2 linked regions of the Homo sapiens genome follow. The protein of the gene in region 2 interacts with the protein of the main gene of each other region in a pairwise test. Each region holds a gene or a part of one and is shown on either strand. Other genes may lie near its edges. The genes, in order: CTNNA2 and ZNF639.

Evidence for each region.
Region 1: the proteins of ZNF639 (region 2) and CTNNA2 interact in binary tests that used the Homo sapiens proteins (3 or more experiments, as listed by UniProt).

Annotation. Positions count from the first base shown.
Region 1 is NC_000002.12:79,511,070-79,514,989, reverse strand, and holds the start of CTNNA2 (catenin alpha-2), read right to left. Parts: upstream 1,940-3,920; 5' UTR 1,783-1,939; intron 1-1,782. UniProt on the Homo sapiens protein: May function as a linker between cadherin adhesion receptors and the cytoskeleton to regulate cell-cell adhesion and differentiation in the nervous system. Required for proper regulation of cortical neuronal migration and neurite growth.
Region 2 is NC_000003.12:179,325,770-179,329,689, reverse strand, and holds part of ZNF639 (zinc finger protein 639), read right to left. Parts: intron 2,726-3,920; exon of another isoform or gene 2,346-2,725; intron 2,130-2,345; 5' UTR 2,059-2,129; intron 1,408-2,058; 5' UTR 1,397-1,407; coding exon 1,339-1,396; intron 73-1,338; coding exon 1-72. UniProt on the Homo sapiens protein: Binds DNA and may function as a transcriptional repressor.

The sequences.
Region 1 (3,920 bases), on a different chromosome or scaffold from region 2:
GCAATTCTCTTCATCTCAACTCCTGCTTTACACTCCCATAAAATGCAAAACTGCATATTGCACTACTGTCATATAATAATTTAAATGAAAAGAAAAAAATCAATAATGTGTTCCACAGCATAGTGTCTTACTGGCAACTTCAAAGAATCCACCATTAATTTTGGTCCCTCACACATACTCCTTAAACACAAAACACAGCTATTCTAAAGATATTAAGGTTTTTTGGTCTGTTGTTTTAGGAGAATATAAATAGAACAAAATATAGGCTTCAAAATATCCATTTTTGATTTATACTTACACTGTTGGACCCTTCTGAGATGATAAATATGCTAAACATTCTGAGGCATGGCTGTCCCGCCATGTAAAAATAAACTTTACAGCAGCAATGCTAACAGAAAGAATTGTCAAATTGCCAATAACATGTATAATGTAAGGGGTTAGAATGCAAGCTGAAGAGAGCAAGGTAAATTATAGCATTCTGTGAAAATAAGTGATGTAAAACCAACAGCAATTTTAAATTATTAACAATGGTTCCGAAGCTAATTCAACTTTTCCATTGGTGTAAGCCACAAACAGAATCACACAGCATGTTTCTCTTTAAACATCTTCAGGGGTCCTACGAGGTGGGTGAAAATGGGTAAGGGTGTCTGTTAAAGGCTCTAATGCAGCTAATGCCATCTAAATGGTATATTTACAAGCCTGTGGAGTATAACCTCATTTCTCCAAAACTGTCTAACCATTATCCTACTTGAGAAGTTAACCCATGATGAACAAAAGTACCTCTCTTCCACCCTTCTGCTCCCTATTTTCCCAAACCTTTCTATCTTGGTATTTTGTATGCTGAGCAAAACATTCCATAAATAATGCTGTGGTGCACAGGCATTAAAGTTTAGAGAGTTTCTGCCTTTGAAGTAGGTAGTGACAGGACCAAGGACACACGGGTTCAATTCCAAGCCAAATATGAGGCGGGTGGTTTGAAAATGTCAAACCAAAGAGGCCTAGGGGAAAAGAACACAAGCTTCCACTGCCACCTCCCTTCCTCTCCCCTCCCCTTTTTCTCTCTTGTTCCTTTCCTCTCTTCTCCTTTTTCGTTGTGGTTTCTCACGGAGACAATCAAAGCAGGGAAGGCTGGATTTTAAATTGGTGAGACACACACTGGAAATATGTAATTCCCAGAAGAAAAAAAGAAACTGCTGAAGAGGGGTATGGGGGCTGTTGGCAGCATGTCCAAGTGACAACCCTCCCCACCCCCACCCTAATATAGCACAAATCCACAGATTCTTCTTCGATCCTCTTCTCCCTCCAGTTCCCAGTACTCTACCCAACTTGACCCTTCATCCTAAAAATTTAGGAATCTGCAGGGCACCCGCTGTTTAAGAGTGTGTCTCTCAGTATATGCACCCAATTTTCTGGAACCCCTGAATCCGGACAGTTGTAGCAGGCAAGGGATGCTCCCACCCTCCCACCGGGGAAGAGGTAAGAAAGGGGGGAAGAAGAGATGGAGACAAGAGGAAAGGGATGCAGAGCTGTGCTCTAGGGCGAGTGGCTGCAAGGAAGACGGGGAAGAAAGAAAGGGTGGGAAGGAAGTGGGGCTGGGAGAGAGGAAGAAAGGGATGAAAGAAAGGCTGGAAGGGAGAAAGGAGGGGAGAGGAGAGAGGGATGTTGGGAAGGATGAGGGAGGGAGGGTTGGGGAGCGGGGAGGGGGGAGGATGGAGAGGATGGGAGGGAGGTGGGGAGGGAGGGAGGCAGGCAGGGATGGAGGATGCTCTGCCCGGGACTCACCTCTGTGGGTCGGTGGGAGTTTCTCGCCTCCTCCTCTTTCTCGCCCGTTCCCAGCAGCTGGAGTGGTAATCACAGAAGGGACTGGAGAGGCGGCGGCAGGGACAAGGGCAGCAGCTGCTGCAGCCGCCTCTGGCCGAGGTGCGGTGCCGCCTGCTCTGCCCGCCCGCCTGGGTCTCCGCCTCACTCGGGGCTGGAAGCGAAGCCGCTCCCCCCTCCCCCCGCCCGCCCCGCGTCCTGCCCAAGCGCGAGCGGCAGCGGCCCGGATCGCCGCTAGGGGAGGCAGCCAGTGCGCATGCGCGGCCGCTTGCTCGCTCGCGCGCCCCCGCGGTCCCCGTGGCTCCGCGGCGCCTGGAAAGGCACCGGGCATCGAGGGGTGGCTGGGTGGGGGGCCGCGGGCGCGCGCGGCCTGGGGAGCGCCCGAAAGGGCGGGGCGGGGTAGGGCGGAGCTCTGGAGGCGCGGCAGGCTCGGCGCCGCAGGTGGGGGGAGGGGACGGCGGCGAAGGGGCACCGCCGTAGGGCGCAGGTGCCGTGTCCATGACAACCGCGTTACCCTGCGGGCGGGGACCCGGAGCTGAATCGCCGGAGTCGCGAGGCCCGGGGAGAGGGACCGGGTGCGGGAGCGGGCAGGATAGGGGCGGGGGGGATAGGGGTGTCGCAGAGTAGGAAAGGAGGGCCAGCCCAGCAGGGGTCCGACACGTGGCAGGAGGAGGGCAGGGCCAGAGTGCTGCAAAGGTAGTGACTGCCGCGGAAGGGAGGTTTGTTGGGATGTGGAGTCCCGAGGGGAGAGGAAGGGAGATTTGGACTTTAAAAGAACCTAGAAGAGGATGGAATTGTTAAAACAACTGGAATATTTGCTCATTTAACAAGCCTTTGTTGAATATTTTCTCCGTGGAAGGCATTGTGATTCTTTTCTTGATTCAGTGGATATTACTTGGCTCCTAGTTTGTACCAGACACTGTACTTAGGCATTTTGAGATATCCAAAAATGTTCGTCCTCTGAGAGGTTATACTGTAGTTGGGGAACTTACATAGCTAGGGCAGGGAGTGTTTGCGCCGCCAGCCATCGGCAGCTGGGACTCGATGTTGCTGGAATGTAACTGTTACAGAGGTGCTAACAGTGAAAAAGGTACACAGCTACATCAGATGAGAAATATAAGTTACAGTCATCTTTGTTCTGCCACAGTGCCAAATGACAATTTTGTTTTGTTTTAAATCAAGAGAGAGAAACAAAAAGAAAATCTGTGGAAGTTTAGTATGACACAACCGACGCTAAGTTCACAACATGCTACCTGTTTGGTATCCTAGTCCACTAGCATCAGTGCGTGTGTTCATGCCGACACTTGGATGGCTTTATGTCACTTAGTGCATGCATTTTTTAAATTCTCCTTCATCAATGGCTATGCCATTGATATTTTTCCCTCCCCCCTTTTGCTTCCAAGTTCGCGTCTGCAATTGTTTGAAAATTACATAAAATCCTACTATTTTTAATTCTCTCTAGGGAATGACTGGAGAGGGATACCTCTGTCCATGCCTCTATCTTTCTCTCCCAATATCTTTTTGGCTTTCTTTTTTCTTGTCCCCACCACTTTACCAATTTAAAAATTCCTGGGAAAAAGTGAACAGGAGTCACCGGATATTGGCTTAAGAAGAATCTTAGCACGCAACCATGTTTCAGGACCACGGACAGTGACACCGCGTGCTCTTACCACCTAGCGTTTTTCTTAGACTGCCTATAGAAACAGGAGAAACACGCTAAAGGCACACGATGTGCTTCATGAAGTGCCGAGCGCCAAATGATTTGTGCCAAAAGGTATAAAGAGTGGAGAATGAAAAGTGCATACTATGGACTGGAGTAGGTAGGAAGGAGGTAGGCCTTCAGCTGAATTTTGAAGCATGAATAAGATTTAGAGAGGCATCACAAGTCCCTGATGTGGTAAGATGTGGTAAGCACCAGCGAGGTGCTTAAATAAAAAGGGATACTGCATACAGTGTCATTCCAGAGGCAGAAGACACCTATGAATTTGAATGGTCCAAGAATCTGGAAAGAGTAAAGTTGTCCTAGTCAAATGAGGTAGAGCATGCACGTAAGAATTGACTTTTTAAAAAAATGATTATTGTGATCTTTTTCATACTCTGGT
Region 2 (3,920 bases):
AACAGACACTGTAACAATGATCAGAGAAAATTCCATTGAATCCATCTGCAATTCTGCTTATTCCAGAGGAATCTGAACATAAAATGAAAAATATTTCAAGTACAGTAAACATACATATTTAATGAGAAACTTCCCGTTATCTAACTTATACAAATGTTCTTAATGTTAATTATAGTATCTGTAATGAAAATATTATACATTTTCAACTTTTAAAGCTTTTATATTTCAGATCCAATATTGACATAGGACTTTGAAAGAACCACAAATTACATACTCTAAAACATAACAACTTTGAAATATACAAGGATACATTTGTTTTATACTCAGAATCACACAAAATAAAAATATATGATAAACACTGTATTAACTGCACAAAACAGTGAAATAAACACCAGGAAGGTGTGCCATGTCATGCAGAGAAAGGTTGTTACATAGGGGAAATGGTAAGGACCACTTAGGGCTTCTGAATATAGTCATTTCAAGTGTTGTCTAGGAAGGGCCAGTAAGCAGTATACTAGGGTTAATTTCTTCAGATATGAAGAATGTGTAGGCTGGGTAGACTAATAGGTAAGACTGAGATGGTCCCAAGTAAATGTATGCGAGGTGTATTAGAGATGGCCACAAAGACCCCTTTTCTTATACTGCCAACACAGCAGAGCCAACCTCAATGAAAGGATCTAAAATTACACAGTCATCCAGCCTGGGCAGCATGGTGAAACCCCATCTCTACTTTAACACTACAAAAAATTAGCCAGGTGTGGCGGTACACGCCTGTAATCCCAGCTACTTGGGAGGCTGAGGCAGGAGAATCACTTGAACCCAGAAAGCAGAGGTTGCAGTGAGCTGACATCACACCATGGCACTCCAGCCTGGGCTAGAGAGTGAGACTCTGTCTCAAAAAAAAAAAAAAAAAAATTACACATTCAGCATGAAAGTTTACATTTCCTAAAGTAATAAAGAGGATAAAGTCTTTTTTCCCCAATAATGTAAAATATTTTCTACCAAGGTTGTCATTATTGGGTCTTAAGCACAGCTTAGGTATCAGACATGCAAATCCCAATTATGTTATATAAGTAAATAACCTTGGCTATCTAATTTTAAATATTTATAACCCATAGAGCTGTGAGGAATAATATAATGTCTGTAAAGTTCTTATGTGTGCCTAGCACATGGTAGACAATAAGGAATATATATTCAGATAATGTATTTAAACCGTTGTTTTACCTAAATATTGACCCAGATATTTAAGTCTTATCTGATCACTTAGGAGAAAATGGATGAGAATATAATTTTGTGGGAATTAATCCATACCCAACTTTAAAATAATTATACACTGACCTGAATAACGAGAAGGGTGTAGAGTCTTCCTTTTTCTTTTTTTAGGATACTCATTCATATCTTTTCAATCTAAAAAACGAGAAAAAATTAACAAATATGTCACAAATAACAACTGTTAATGACGTTATAAAAATTCTAACTGAAGAATTTATTGGCAATATGAAATATGTGAGCCACCTGAAAATCTATGGTATAAGAAAAGTGTTAAATGATGCCTCTGTTTGTATTTCAGATTGTTTTCCAGTCAGGTTTCAAGGCAGAAACTGATTTCTGTTTTCTTTCTTACGGAGGTTAAAAAATTCTTTTTCAAATGTTGATATAAATTGTGAGAACTGGATAATTACAATAAACCACATGTTTAAGTCATTTTATTTTGTGTATATATAAAAAAAGAAACACTGTGCCTATGGCACCATACTAGGAGTTTTATAGGCACATTTCCTACCATTGGAAGTATTTTTAGGTAGTTTTCAAGCTAAAGGCGGAGACATTTCCTTTAAAAAAATATTGTCACAAATATGTATCGGCCTCCTGGCTTCCAGAAAAAAGTACTCATCACACAGATCAGAATATAAATAATTTTCAAGAAAAAAATCATTTTCCTATTTATGAGGTCACATTCAACGTTCCACTGAGAACACAACACATGCAGCAACCACTATCCAATTAAATTCTCATTAACTGTTACAAAATTAATTAGTTTCAATACAGTCCACTTACTTGGTATAATTCTTACTACTGGAGTGAGGAAAAATGAATTACAATAAGTTTCTGTAGACAGTAAAAAATGCCTGTAAGTAAAACATGAAAGAAGTTATTAAGCAAAAATACAGCTCATTTCTGGTACTGAATAATACAATGGCACCAGATCTTTAATCAATTGGAAAGTTATACAGAACTAATTAAGATATATTATTTTGAAAACAATGTACTACATACTAAAAACTGTATATCTTGATAAATATGTGATTATATGCAAATTTCCACATTTCTTTGAAATGATTTACCTTCTATAGTTCTTTTTTTTTGAGACAGTCTCATGCCTGACCTATAGTTAAATCTTTTGACACCAAAATAGGACTATGAATCTGAATTAATTTATTCATCCATAAGGAAAGCAAGCATAATGAAAGCAAACCAAATTATAAACTTTTTGTTTTTGAGACCGAGTTTTGCTCTTGTTACCCAGGCTGGAGTGCAATGGCGCGATCTCAGCTCACTGCAACCTCTGCCTCCTGGGTTAAAGCGATTCTCCTGCCTCAGCCTCCCAAGTAGCTGGGATTACAGGCATGTGGCACCACACCGGGCTAATTTTTCTATTTTTAGCAGAGACGGGGTTTCACCATGTTGGCCAGGCTGGTCTCAAACTCCTGACCTCAGGTGATCCACCCACCTGGGCCTCCCAAAGTGCTGGGATTACAGGCGTGAGTCACCTTGCCTGGCCCAAATTATAAACTTTAAACTGTTACAGCCCTTATAGATTATTTATTTAAGAAATAAAAGATCGAGACCAGCCTGGCCAATATGGTGAAATCCCGTCTCTGCTAAAAATACAAAAATCAGCCGGGTGTGATGGTGCGCACCTGCAATCCCAGTTACTCAAGAGGCTGAGGCAGGAGAATGGCTTGAACCTGGGAGGCGGAGGGCTACAGTGAGCTGACATCGTGCCACTGCACTCCAGCCTGGGCAACAGAGCAAGACTCTCTCTCAAAAACAAAAAATCAAAACAAAACAAAAAAAGAAAAAAGTAAAAGTGATAATAATAATTTACTGACCACCAATTATGTACCAGGCTGTGAACATACTTTATCTCATTTAATCCTATGTAATCGTATGAGATGCAAAATTCACATCACCCTCTCAAAATTATAGTTCCTGTTATTGAGGAAACTGAGGCACAGTAAAGTCAAAGCTAGATACTCAGTAAATGCTGGGGTTGGGATTTGAATAAAGGTTTACCCAACTTTATTTATTAATCTATTTATTTATTTGAAACGGAGTCTTGCTCTGTCACCCAGGCTGGAGTGCAGTGGCACGATCTTGGCTCATTGCAACCTCTGCCTCCCCAGCTCAAGCGATTCTCCTGCTTCAGCCTCCTGAGTGGCCGGGATTACGGGCGCCCGCCAGCAGGAGGCTGGGATTACAGGTACCCGCCAGCACACCCAGCTAATTTTTGTATTTTTAGTAGAGACGGGGGTTTACTATGTTAGCCAGGCTGGTCTTGAACTCCTGACCTCAAGTGATCCGCCCACCTCAGCCTCCCAAAGTGCTGGGATTACAGGCACGAGGCACCGCGCCCGGCCTATAATGCTCTTAACACCAAGGTGATACACATGACAGGTGTTCTAGCTGAGGTGCACATACTATTTTTGCTGCTTCACTAAGTTCTGGGTATATCAGCACTGAAGTGATATAATACAGCAGGGAATGAGATAGTGCTTTTTCAGTTTATTTTATTTTTACTTTTTTTTCGGACAGAGTCTCGCTCTTTCGCCCAGGCTGGAGTGCAGTGGCGCTATCTTGGCTCACTGCAAGCTCCGCCTCCCGGGTTCATGCCATTCTCCTGCCTCAGCCTCCCAAGT